Regions from separate parts of the Homo sapiens genome. Here regions 1, 2 and 3 are each reported to be linked to region 4. Evidence: microRNA targets listed by miRTarBase, many of them from high-throughput screens and not tested one by one. Region 4 holds a microRNA gene; each other region holds the end of a gene's coding sequence.
What was found. Region 4 holds the annotated microRNA hsa-miR-548n (CAAAAGUAAUUGUGGAUUUUGU, at 1,546-1,567, opposite strand). A microRNA usually pairs through its seed, bases 2 to 8, with sites in the 3' UTR of a target mRNA and lowers its output. Matches are read on the target gene's strand: a 7mer-m8 pairs with bases 2 to 8, a 7mer-A1 pairs with bases 2 to 7 and ends in A, and an 8mer does both.

Region 1 (3,149 bases), not on the chromosome of region 4:
GACCTGCCTAAGGTCACACCATCATGAGTGGCTGAGTTGGGCTGTGATGAGCCACCCGGCTGGAGAGCTTGTGCCCTGGTTACACGATTGCCAGTGAGATGCCTATGGACTCGCATGTAGAGGTGGGTACCCAGACAGCTCAGAGTGAGCTGCCTGCGGGCCCAGCATGCAGAGGTGTGTACTCAGTGCTGTGTGAGATGCCTGTGGGCCCAGGCACGGAGGGATGCATGCGTGCCCAGAAAGCAAAAGGCTGTGCAGAGGACCTGCTAGGAGGTAATGACTAGAGAACATGTTTTTAAGCAAACAGGTGAAGGGAAAATGCAAAATAAGGAGCTACATAAGCATCACATCTTAAGAATCATTATGGAGCACCTAACTGTGACTTGTTGGGCTGGGAGCCAAACAACATAGGTGGGACACGCTGCACATAAAAGTAACAAGCTGGAGGTCCAGAGGAACCCTTGGAGCCGTCCCAAGACTGAGAGCCGGTGTCAGGCACCACCTCTTCTGGGCACCTGGGCTATGGCAGTGGGGAGGATGAGCCCCTGATCCCAGAGGCCACTCTCTCACACAGTGCAGTGCAGTCTTTCTCACACAGGACCTAGTGTAACACGGGACCTAATGGCAGGACACATCAACCCATTAAAAATCCAAGCAAGGTACAAGAGATTTCTAGAAACAAAGAATCAGGCTTTATTTTTGTTATTTTGAATACAGGTATTGTATTGTAGACATCTGTTAGTCTCATAATTCAGTATGGCCAACACACAGAAATTAAAAGTAGAAACAAAATGAGGGCACACTTGCTCCTGTCCTTGGCTTGGCCCCTCCAACCTCCAAAAGAACTGTCCTCCCCATTGTCATATCCTTTCCCTGCTACGAAAGACAAAACAAAATGATGCCCCAAAGAAAAGTCCCAGAGGCTCTCTCCCAGCAGTCAGTGGGATGAAGCAAGACACTGTTACCTTGGGTAGGATGGAGAAGCCACCAGGTCCATACCACAGAGGCCACAGTGGGATGGAGAAGCCACCAGGTCCATACCACGGAGGCCACGTGTGCCACCAGTGGAGCCAAACCCTGGCCATGGCTGGCAAAACTCACCACCAGGCGAGACCAGAGCATATTATCTACCAGTAATCCCCGAGGTCCAACGCCATTCAAGTCAGGCAGCCCTGAGGCAAGCAGGAGGAGCCCTGTCCTCTGGGGGTGCTGCTTCCAGAGGAGGCCCAAGGACAGTCTCTTCAGAGAGGGGCTCACCCGGGAAAGGGGGTTCCTGAGGAGGCGTGCAAAGGTCAAGGGACCCACCCTTGCCACCTGTCCCAGGGCTTACTGCTGACTCCACTGTCCTGGGAGTGCTGGAATCTCCACACCACTTAAAATGAAAAAGGAAATCAGAAATAATAAGGCATTAGACGTTTGATTCTTTTATTTCCATATGCAATGTAATGTTTAGGCACGCTGCTTGGGATGCTACTTCTAAAAAAATTGTTGGCCATTTTTCAGAATATCCTTTTGGTTTTAAATACTGGTCAGGAAAAACAAATGATGTAAAAATACGTGAATAATTTTCTATTACAGAAATGAAAAACTGATTTGCATCTAAAAGTGCAAGAGGTGAAGTAATTTAACCCTTTCACCAGACGATATGGCAATATACAATATATTGCTTGAGCTGTTTGAGAAGGCTGTGATGTATTTTTGTATTGACATAGAAAATTATAAATTACATTGAATTAGTATCCATAATCACTATATATATACACAAACCAGTTCTAAAAAAATACACTGGTTTAAATTTATGAGTGAAAACCTCACAAGGTACAGTAAACAATTAGCATGCTTCGGTGCCAGATTTTGATTTCTACTTTTAAAATACTAGCCTGTAAAATGAACGCACTCTAATTCCATTAGCAGCACGAGCATTTTCAACTGACTTGCCTAATAGGATTTATTTTAGGTCTGTTAAATATGCAGATTGCTCTGAAATGTTCATTGGTGATGCTTGTTAACAAGGTAAATTTTGGTGAATGGGTTAAAAGGCAGATGAACTACCAAATGAAACAAAAAAACAAACAAAAACAAAAGCCAAAAAAAAAAAAAAAAAATCCCAAAACACAAGCCATATACACTCCAAATAGTCTAGTGTTTCACTTGTAGGAATAATCATTTCAAGCAAACAAGACTTGAACAGAACATATGGCTTTACGATAACATCAATTTATCAACTATGATGTAGCAATAAATACTTTACTTAATCTCTACCAATAGACTTACATTTTTGATCCGTTTTAAACAATACAGAAAACAATTACCAATCAAAAACTGGTTATAAAAAGAACACCAAATATTTCTTATTCAAAATCACTTTTGTAAGTTAGAACAACCAAAATAACACTTAGAGGGCATTTTCATTCTACAACTCCTTGTCGGCCTGGAGGAAAAATGAATTCATAATTTTGTACAAGGTGAAAAATGTATGAAAACCGCCTAATACTTTGGTCACACTAATAATTGTCAAAGTTATGTTTCAAATACAATAGATCTGTGTATTCACTTTTATAAAACTATTCTTACAGCCATTTTAACTATAGTATTACTACTATTATTACATGGGTGGCAAGATCTTATTTCACAGGCTACCCATTATTTAGAACAATACAATATAAACATACGCAAAAATTCTTGGTATTTGTCAATGTGCAATATTTTTACACTTCTGAATTTCTCTGTACAATGTCTTAGAATCTAGAATATAAAGGTTGCTGGTCCTGATCCCTTGCAGAGTGAGTGCAGCAGTGACAGCTTGGTGGGCTCCAGCTGACCCCTCCAGAGCCCCTGAGTGGTGGCGGTCTGCAGTCCTCAGTCAGCAGCAGCAGACGTCACCCGTCATACAGGGCCATTCACTGAAGTGTCACCTGGTGCGCTTGGTTGGCCAGTCCTAAGGAGCAACAGACAGGCATCGGAGGCACTTGCAGCAGAAATATGAAAAACAAAACCTACTTAGCTGAGCTCCCCAAGGGCAGGGACAACTTATTTTAACATTGTTTTGAACTTAGTAAGTTTTTAATAAAATGATATGTAAATGAATGGAGCAAAAGCTCTAGAAAAATCTGAGTGAGTGCATCTAAGCTTCATCACCGGGTGAGCAG
Region 2 (3,149 bases), not on the chromosome of region 4:
CATATAAATAAATTTTAGATTGAAAAATGTTTGTATCAAAGTTGTAATATGAGGGTACAGAAGAGTCAAGTGAAATGAAAGGAAAAGAAGAGGGAAAGAGCCAGAGGGAATATTGTGGGTTTTTCACAATATTGGTTCCACTTTTTCAACTTCTTCAGTTGAATCAAAGGTCATAAATTACGTGAAATAAAACAGGGCCATTTATAAGAGATCCAAGTTTGAGAAATTTCTTAGACCTGTGTAGTTAGAAAAAAGCAATCTCTAATTATATTTACCTATAGAGTTTATGTTCTCCAGATGTGTGACAATTACATAGTACTTGGACAGTATCCAAGTATGATAATAAACTGTCTGAAATTGGCCTAATCTACATTTAACCAAAGTGTATATATTGTGGGTTTGTAAAAAATTGTTATTTTTTTTTATGTTTTGGGTGTTTAGGCTAGACAGCAACAAGCAGAATTGGCCCAACAGGAATGGCTTCAAATGCAGCAAGCTGCCCAACAAGCCCAGCTTGCTGCTGCCTCAGCCAGTGCATCTAATCAGGCGGGATCTTCTCAGGATGAAGAAGATGATGATGATATCTGAAATTCACCAGCTGAGTTTCTATTTCTTCTATAAATGTTTTTCCCTGCACAACAAAAACAGTGAAAGAAATGCTTATCTGTAATTTTGTATGCATCTTGGTGGACTTGTCATTGGTATTCTAGGGATGTCTGCTATTAAGTTTCATCTATTGTGTGCTATACATGTAAAAACTGTCTCTTTGAACTATTGAAAATTTAAGGTTCAGTATAATATCAATTTTGAATTTTTAATGGTGTTTATGAAATTTTAGATAGCAGCGAGTCCTTCGTTTGATCAATAAACAGTGTTACAGATAACTTCAAGTTTATAAAAATACAGTGAAATTTCTACAAAGCTCTAAATCTGCATTTGCATTTCCTCTGCCCTTTTAACTAAACTAAAACTTGTGAATTTTAAATTATTAAGGGGGGGGTGCTGTGTGAATCAGTAGACATTGGATTGGGTTGGTGAAAGAGTTCAGTTCTGTAGTATCTGAATTTGTCTTTTAAAATGAGTACATATATAGGCAATAAATATATATGCTCAGATCAATATACTTGTTTAGAAAAACTTCAAGACATTCAAAAACTAGGAAGGAGTATGTTTAATAGTATTTGTATAAATTTGGTGGTTATGTTTTTTTATTTTGTTTCTGTTTTGTGTAGAGGTAAAAACTATAGTTTTATTACAGCATAATTCATTTTGAGCTCCACTATGACATTTCAAAGACTGCCCAGTTTGGAAGTCTGTCATGATTTTTACTCTTTCACTCCAATTCAGTAATTGTTGATAGTATTACTTACCTAGTCCATCCATACTCATATTATTCAAATATATAGGTGGTACTTTTGAAACAATTACATTGGTTCTCTTGGTTTAACTGAGGTTTATGAATATTCAAACCTTTGCTGGGGGAAAGAAATGAAAGTTAATGAGCATGCTTGCTATGAGAGAGGGATTTTTAATTTAACTTGTAGTTATAGTTTACTTATTGTTTTTAGAATTACTTTTACATTTTCCCAACTAGATGGCCTAGAGTCCAACATTACCTTTTGAGATGACATTATTGTCTCCATAATTGAGTGATAGCTTTAAAAAAAAGATTAGTTTTGCTTAAGAAGTTATGTTACAACTGATCAGCCCTATATGAATTAACTGATCAGCCCTATATGAAACATAAGTTGTGTTATAACTTATCAGCCGTATATGGAACATAAATAGTTTCTACCTGCTTGTTAGAGAAGCTTTAATTTGGTTCTAATAAATACAGTATGGTAGTGTTTATAGGAATCCAGGATGTTGAAGAAATGGCATAATGTCTATATTTTGGAAACAGAAAGGAAAAGTCACTTAAGATAGTATTAAGTAATTAAATTCCTATGTCAGTTGCCAAATCTTTTAAACTTATGTATTCACCAAGCCCAAAAATAGATTGTGGCTCCCAGGATTCCAATTTTAATTGGAGAGCTAAGTAAGTAAAGTTTTATAACTGTTAGGTTTCTTAATGATCATATTTTGCAGTTTTAGTAAAAGGGAAATATTGTTATACATTTATTAAATATACTTCCCCCATGAAGTGAAAAGGTTAATTTTGCTGAATGTTTTAAGTTGAAGTTACTTCATGGATGTCATACCCATGAAGTGCATTTGGATGAGATAGAAGAAATTGTTTTTTAAAAAGTTTAAGTACCAAAGGTAGTCTAGTCTAGAACGATAAGTTAATACGTGTTGGCTTTTCTAATTTGTACTGTAACATCCTTATACTTTCTATTTTAAGTATATCTGTTTCTTAAGTAAACAACTTAGATATTTTCCACACCTTTTTTTTTTTTTCTGATGCAGAGTTCAGGTTAATATTTTACTGCATCTGATAATGTATTATACGTTTGAAGCCTAGTGACTTTTCATTTTGACATTCTTGTGATTTCATATGCTGTATTCTTCAAGCAATAAAATTGTGATGTGTTTTATAAATGGTTTTTATATTTAATGTTCTATAGAGAGATTTCTATTATTACCATTTTTACTATTTTCAAGAATCTTAGGCCCAAAAGACATTTTGGTCATTTGGTATGTAGTACCTGCCTTTTGTTTTTGTTTACTGTTATTTCAAAAAATGTGGTTTTACTTGTATTTTTATAATTTACAGTCCTAAGATCGAGGCATAACAAAGCTTACTTATGCAATATTTTATTTTTAGGTTTTTTCTTTTTTTTTTTTTTTTTTTTTTTTTTTTAGCATTTAAGAGTCACTATTATGTTTTGCCAGTTAAAATTTTTTAAATCTTTTGAAGAGAGAAACAAAATCTTCAGCGTTCTTGAGAAATAAAATTATTGTTCAGTAAGTATTTTTCCATCCCCTTGAATATATGTTATATATTCTTTTTCGGCAGATTATCAGATTAGTAAGTGTTTAAAAGGCATCAGTTTTTAAAACTGCATATACCACACACACACAAAACAGTACACAAATAAAGGTTTTCACAAATTAAACAAACTCACATACTAGTCTTCAGATCAAAACACAGAGCATTATGTGTACCCCAGAAGCCCTCCTCTTTCCCCATCTTAACACTGTCTTCT
Region 3 (3,149 bases), not on the chromosome of region 4:
ATGGTGGGCTTTGGGGAGGGGAAGAGGGAAAAAGGAATAGGGCTCATGTGGCTGGCTTTTAGGGAGGCAGGTGTGAGAAATACTAACAACTTACAGCTCTTTATAAAGCAAAATGAGATGAAATCCCTCCCCCGCCCCCCCAATTCTCACTCCACAAACCTATGCCTTTCGGTTCTCCCTTCCCCTGGTAGGCCTGGCTCCTTGCCTGGCATTACCATGCACCACGAATGCAGGCAGGAGGCCCCAAACACCCAGACACGGTGTCAGTTCTACAAAACTTTCCAAGTTGGCAGAAGGAGAAGCCACTGCCTCCTCCGGTTTGGAGGCCTCAGGGGAGGTGTTGTCTAGACCGCCCAATCCACTATCCATTCACAAGCCAGTCAGCAACTACCACTTGCCAGAGTCCCTGCCACCACCTCCCACTCTGTGGGGACAACAGCATCCACTTCTTCCACAACAACGAAACAACAAAGATAAAGCATGGCACCTGTCGTCATGCTTGCCACCTTTCAGCACCTCTCGGCTCAGCATTCTGAAAGCCGGGAACTCATCTTTAAAGGAGGCCAGGACTTGAATACAAGCAAGAAAATGGCATAAAATGAAGGAATTAGCCACTCGAGGTTGAAAACACACTTCCCTAAAATGACAGCAGCATTTGGAGCTGCAGGTGGGAGCACACAGCCTACCTCTAACTGGCCTGTCAGAACAGACACGTTTTCCCGTTCTCATTTTGTGTTTCCTTAAACCAACTACTAACTTCTGGCAGAGGTGGTGACTGCCTGGGAAAGATGCCATCCTCATCTGGCCCCCTTATCTATCAAGATGCAAACTAATAAAACCAGCGGGCGGGACACCCATTTAACCTGAAACCTCCTCTTTTGTTAAAAATGGACTGAATGTGTCTTCCGGTTAATAATAAACTTTGCTGGGCACTGGAATAACCACCAGCCTCCTCAACCGTGGCTGCTCTCAAAAGCAGATGTGGTGTTCCCTGTCCCGAGAAGGCTCCAGAGTATTTGGATTAAGGACCTGGATATGCAGATCCTACTCTTAAGAATTAACATTTCCTCCCTACCCCTCAAATGTAAAACTGGAAAAATTAAGAACTCTGTATTTTGCATTGCATTCTCTTAAAAATTCTGTTAAAAAAATCTCTTCACAGACTGGGTGTGGTGGCTCGTGCCTGTAATCCTAGTACTTTGGGAGGCCAAGGCGGGCGGATTGCCTGAGCTCAGGATTTTCTGGGCTGAGGCTAATATTGCATAACTTTATCACATACTTGTCAACTTCTGCAGATGTACACAATGTGCATTTCACTGCTTATAAATTTTACCTCAAAAGGAAAACAAACTAAACAGGTATTAAACTCTTATTGCATAAATAATAAGAGGCATTGGAGGATGAATGGAGAGAGACGGTGAGGAGCCAAGTCCAGAAAGGGGGTAGCGGTGCCCAGGTGCTGCACGCACCGCTGCGTCTGCACATTCATGTGATGAGGGGTGGGTGACGGTGCCATGTAGTTTATAGTCTTAAGGAAATTAACAGCTCCCTCTTCCAAAGCGAGGGAACGAGAATCCCACACCTTGAGAAACACAGGGCTTTCTACGGTGACTCCCCGAATGGCTCTGCAGCTTAAAAAGCTCCAACACATAAACTCATCAAGTAGGGTGAAGAATGAGGTGACACCAAGTTTGCTAAATAGTATTGTTTATTAAGGCTTGTATTCTCCTAGAGGAAAAACCCAATGTCGTCCAGGACTCCATTCAGGCAGTAACAGTTCAGAGGAAGTGACACGCTCTAAATACAAGTCTAATGATACAGCTGAAACGTTAACTCAGAGGGTCTTTTGGAGCAAGTAGTTTTCAGAAAGCGTCTGCTCTCTAGGACGGTAAGGATCCTCTACAAGGGCACGTGCAGATCCAGGCGCTGGAGCGTCAGGCATGGGCACCATTTTCATGCTTCAACTCAAACTCCAGGTGGTAGTGAGCTCAACGGTCCCTCATTCCACAAAACATGACAGCAAATTCATCTTCTAAAAAAAGTTTTGTTTTGTTTTTACCCATTCAACAGGAAAAAAAATTAGACACACACGATGAAATTTACAACCAGCAGCATCATCCATCACACTGTCTGTACTACCAGATCCTACACTTAAAGCTCAGCATTATTGGTATAAAAACTTAAGACGGCATTAGAATTCTTAAGAAAAGGTGTAAAATTTAAAAAGATGTGCAAACAACAAAGAATGCCCGACCCTGAACCAGACCTAAAGCACCTTCCAGTTCCTCCACACATCATGCCCCAACACCATCCAGCCCAATCGGACACCAGGACAGTGAGGGACGGGTGGCTGTTCAGTGGGCAACAGATCTGGAAGGAAAGATTTTCAAAAAAAAAAAAAAAGTGTCTGCCAAATTTGAAAAATTAAAAGTTATCTGTCTAGCAGAAAAATCAAATGGGTAAATTAGCACTTTAGACCGATAACAGATAATAAAATGACAAATCAGAATGAACAAAAAATCATTAACCTTTTGATTTCAGTATTTTCAAGAGATTTTATCAGAATACTCTAAATGACAAAATGACTCATGGTTTCTTATGTTTGCTAAAAAGCAATAAAGGGATGAGAAATATGAAGTCTCACAGAATATCAAATGACTGAATTTAAGAACACAATTTCTGCCAAAATAGATGCTTTGTTTTTAAGGATACTTACATTTCACATTAGATCAGTCTGATTGATAAGCTGACAAAAAAAATACTCCTTTATTAGTGACTTCTACAGGATTATAATACATAGAAAAAGTACAAATAAATGCAGATCCATCTGGGCAAAAATCAACGACAAGAAAGGCAAAGATGCAACACTCAACCCCCGCACGGGACGACACACTGGAGCTGACCAAGCACACGTGTTTTAAACTGTTTTCAAAGTCAAACGTTAGAACATGTAAGAAACTGGTTCGCCCTCATTGTTTGTTTCGACTCTGCCGTTCCTGTAAAAAGAAAAAACAAAAGTTGAACGCAGAGTAACCACACCAATGAATCCCTCCCAAAAGTGAGATCCGAGGCTGCCCCTTAGCAGCACCTGCAAATCTGGAGGCGGGACCCTGAATGGTACCCAAGCCACACCAGCACACAACTCTGAG
Region 4 (3,149 bases):
CAAGACTGTGCACTGACCTCAAGCCTGCGTCTTCATAATGTGGATGATTCACAATGGGCCGAAGTGCAGAGAGCTTAACACTTGCCATCGTGGGCATGGCACCCGCAAACACTGCATCTGGAAGGCAAGAGGAATGTCTCAGGAAGACACTCAGTGAAGGCGAGAAGGTGTCTCCTTCAAGTGTAAATCAATTATTTCACAGGTAACAGAGCGGAAGCCCAGCAGGTTCATGACTTCAAGATTCAATGGCAGAACTAGCATGAAGTCAGATGGCTGATAAAGTAGCAGTTGGCAGCCAGGCCTGGGTAAACTATTTTCCTTGGAAAACAGAGCTTCATCATCTCATCATTAAAGATTTCTTTCTTTCTTTAAAGAAAAAATCTTAGAAATCTTTCCTGAATCTAAAAAAGAAGTATCAAATGGACTAGGAAAGCTTTACAGTAACAAGGAGTTCTGGAAGATGATTTAGTATTCAATCATTTGATACTCAGATGACAACAAAGTCTCCCTTTCCACACATGAATAAAATGTCACATTCCATGAGTTTATTTCAAGAAGGAATGTGAAGGACTAATATTAAAAATTCATTAAGAAAATAAGCACAGGAAAAATTATTTTAAATGTGGCATTTATGACTGTGAATAAATTTTGAAAAAATTAAAATCTATAAAAAATGGCAGAATAAATTACTAAGAACATATGTATAACATTTCCCCTGCAAACCATTTAAACAGGATTGATATCTCCTTTGTTTTAGATATTCTAAAAGCAACATTGCATAGAAAGAGTGAGATCAGTGGAAGTAACTAGGGTTTAAGAGTTTGCAGTGGTATATAAAATTGTGGGAAAAACAGCTAAATAATATGACTTTTTTTTTCTTTTTTTTTTTTTTACCTGGTTTAGTACTATATTTGATCCATTCTATAAGTTCTTCTTGGGGCAAATTGCTGAACTCCCCTACAATATTCCACTGGGTTTGCAGATTTGCTGAACCTTGTATTGACATTGCTGCTAATATAGCAAACACAATAGCACCAGGATGTACTTTGCAAAAGAGCCATCCAAATAGCTGAAACCAAATTAAGAATACATTGGTAATTGTTAGTATAAGTAGTATGCATCTGTTATGCAAAACTTCTTCCCAGAGAAGAATAAGGCCTCTGCTAGAGTCCCAAATAAAGGATTAATTATCCTAAAGAAAAAGCCCCAAAATAATAATCTTTGGGATCAAAAGGATTCTACCATCAGCCTCATATAAGTGGAACACAATGTAGGAAGCTCTTTTCTCAACCTGCTTTCACTACTCCCAGATTCAAGTAAAGCCACAACCAATTTACAAGGCCCAGTACAAAACAAAAATGTGGGGTCTCTTGTTAAAAAATTAAGACGTTCAAAACAGCAGCAGCAAACATTCAATCAAGTTCAGGGTCCTGAATGTGAGGTCCTGTGTGACCAGCAGGAACCCCACACTTGGAAAACCTGCCCTGGGTGACACTTTCTATTAGGTTGGTGCAAAAGTAATTGCGGGTTTTGCTATTTTTAACGACAAAATCCACAATTACTTTTGCACCAACCTATATCATCAGTCATGCTGTGGGATAAGACTCAAGATTAAAGGCTTCCAACCAGCCTCCTTTCCTGTGCCAGCCTGAAGGGGTCAGAAAGGTAGAAAGTAGTGCCTTTCTAACATAATACAACATACTGATTGGGAACCTCAAGGCTGGCTAATTTTTTCCACATCCAAATAGTCCACACTCCATAACAACACTTTGTTCTCTTGATCTTTCTCCACATGTCTACAGAGCTAGATTTCAAGTTTCTTGAGGGCTTATAAACACTGGCTTTTGACTTTTCTGTCTACTACTCTCTCCTCCATCCCTAGAGTGCGCAGTGTAGGTGCTTAGTGACTATCTGCTACGTCTAAGGGAGGTGCTGCTGTTGTACCTAGGCTGGTTGACTGATGGAAAGGTGACACTATGGAGAAGCATAAATCTGTGAATACAGAACAAGGAGGCAGCTATCCAGGAAAAATAAGCAGCAAACCACCAAGGAAGGCTTAAACTAAATTTTAAAAAGCACAAGTCAAGAATGTGCACACAAATTGCACCAACTGAAAAAAAAATAAGTTTGATACTAAAAAAAGAACATATAATTTTCAAGCACTTATAACCTGAAATTATTAGATTTCTTTGTGATATGAATGTCAAAACAAAAAAAGTTATTATTTGTACAATTAAGCTCTGCTTTCTATCAGCACCTGCAGTAATCACTCATGAACTCAGTCTGTACTAAATCGGTATTAGTTGTACACCAACAACTATTTTAAATCTTTAGAAAGATAGAAAATGATCAGCTTTGGCCCTTACCCTTTAAGAAAGATAAGTACAAAACCATGAAGAGCTTTAACTATAATCACTTAAAAGACTTTGTAATTCATTATTTTAGGGCCACTCAATAATAAAGGCTAAAATTATCATAGTAGCTATACTCCAACATAACATGTTACCTGTCTTGAGCAGATCAGTGATGCCATAACACACATGTGTGGTGTCAAGAAGAGTTTTAGTCTCATAATTAAAATACCAAGGGCTGTATATGCTAACAATTGCAATGCATGGTAAACCAGCTGAAAGAAAGAAGAAAATGTTTTTTACTCCTACTGTTTGTGAAGTTTAAGAATACTAAACTGGCAATATGCAGAAAGGGGTACGTTCTCCTTAGTAACAAAAAATACTACTAAGGTTTCTGAAACTTCGAAAACAATTCTTAAAATTCACTTTCAAACTGTTCCATTTTAGTGGAAGGCTAAAATTATAAAGTCATTAAGGCAAGTGTTTCTGTGATTCTCAGAGTCAAACCTGTGGTTAATAAAGCCCACATTTTTTAATCAACCTTGATGCTACCATCAGACCAAGAAAAGACAGTGGTAAAAGAAATGACTGCTGCCTCAAGATCTGAGGGCTCCACCTTGGAACTGCCCTCAAAACCAGACTGGACAACTAGGAGATGGGAGCAGTAACCAATCACATCTCTGAGGCCTCAAGCAAGGTGAGCAGAGAGGAAAGTGATTTCCAATCATGCAATAGACACCTCATACATATGTCTAAATGGGCTCCAGAAATCAACTGCCATTAGTGTAAAGATGATCA

Region 1: miRTarBase lists PPP6R3 as a target of hsa-miR-548n. Seed matches in the 3' UTR shown: 7mer-A1 at 1,601-1,607 and 8mer at 776-783.
Region 2: miRTarBase lists DR1 as a target of hsa-miR-548n. Seed matches in the 3' UTR shown: 7mer-m8 at 1,411-1,417 and 8mer at 1,572-1,579.
Region 3: the mRNA of YTHDF1 is a reported target of hsa-miR-548n. Seed matches in the 3' UTR shown: 7mer-m8 at 2,802-2,808 and 7mer-A1 at 2,426-2,432.

Annotation. Positions count from the first base shown.
Region 1 is chr11:68,612,855-68,616,003 of GRCh38, reverse strand. It overlaps PPP6R3 (protein phosphatase 6 regulatory subunit 3), which reads right to left. Exons shown (of 24, transcript NM_001164161.2): 24 at 670-2,938. The coding sequence ends at 2,887. Among named protein-coding and RNA genes, the nearest start is that of GAL, 70 kb to the left of the region's middle.
Region 2 is chr1:93,360,052-93,363,200 of GRCh38, forward strand. DR1 (down-regulator of transcription 1) reads left to right here. Exons shown (of 3, transcript NM_001938.3): 3 at 442-3,149. The coding sequence ends at 588. Among named protein-coding and RNA genes, the nearest start is that of DR1, 16 kb to the left of the region's middle.
Region 3 is chr20:63,193,739-63,196,887 of GRCh38, forward strand. It overlaps YTHDF1 (YTH N6-methyladenosine RNA binding protein F1), which reads right to left. Exons shown (of 5, transcript NM_017798.4): 5 at 1,691-2,996. The coding sequence ends at 2,970. Among named protein-coding and RNA genes, the nearest start is that of MIR124-3, 17 kb to the left of the region's middle.
Region 4 is chr7:34,939,259-34,942,407 of GRCh38, forward strand. MIR548N (microRNA 548n) reads right to left here and starts at 1,576; the gene lies at 1,502-1,576. DPY19L1 (dpy-19 like C-mannosyltransferase 1) reads right to left here. Exons shown (of 22, transcript NM_001366673.1): 18 at 2,507-2,626; 19 at 895-1,069; 20 at 18-117. It overlaps LOC102724723 (a long non-coding RNA gene), which reads left to right and starts at 2,968. Exons shown (of 3, transcript XR_001745166.2): 1 at 2,968-3,048.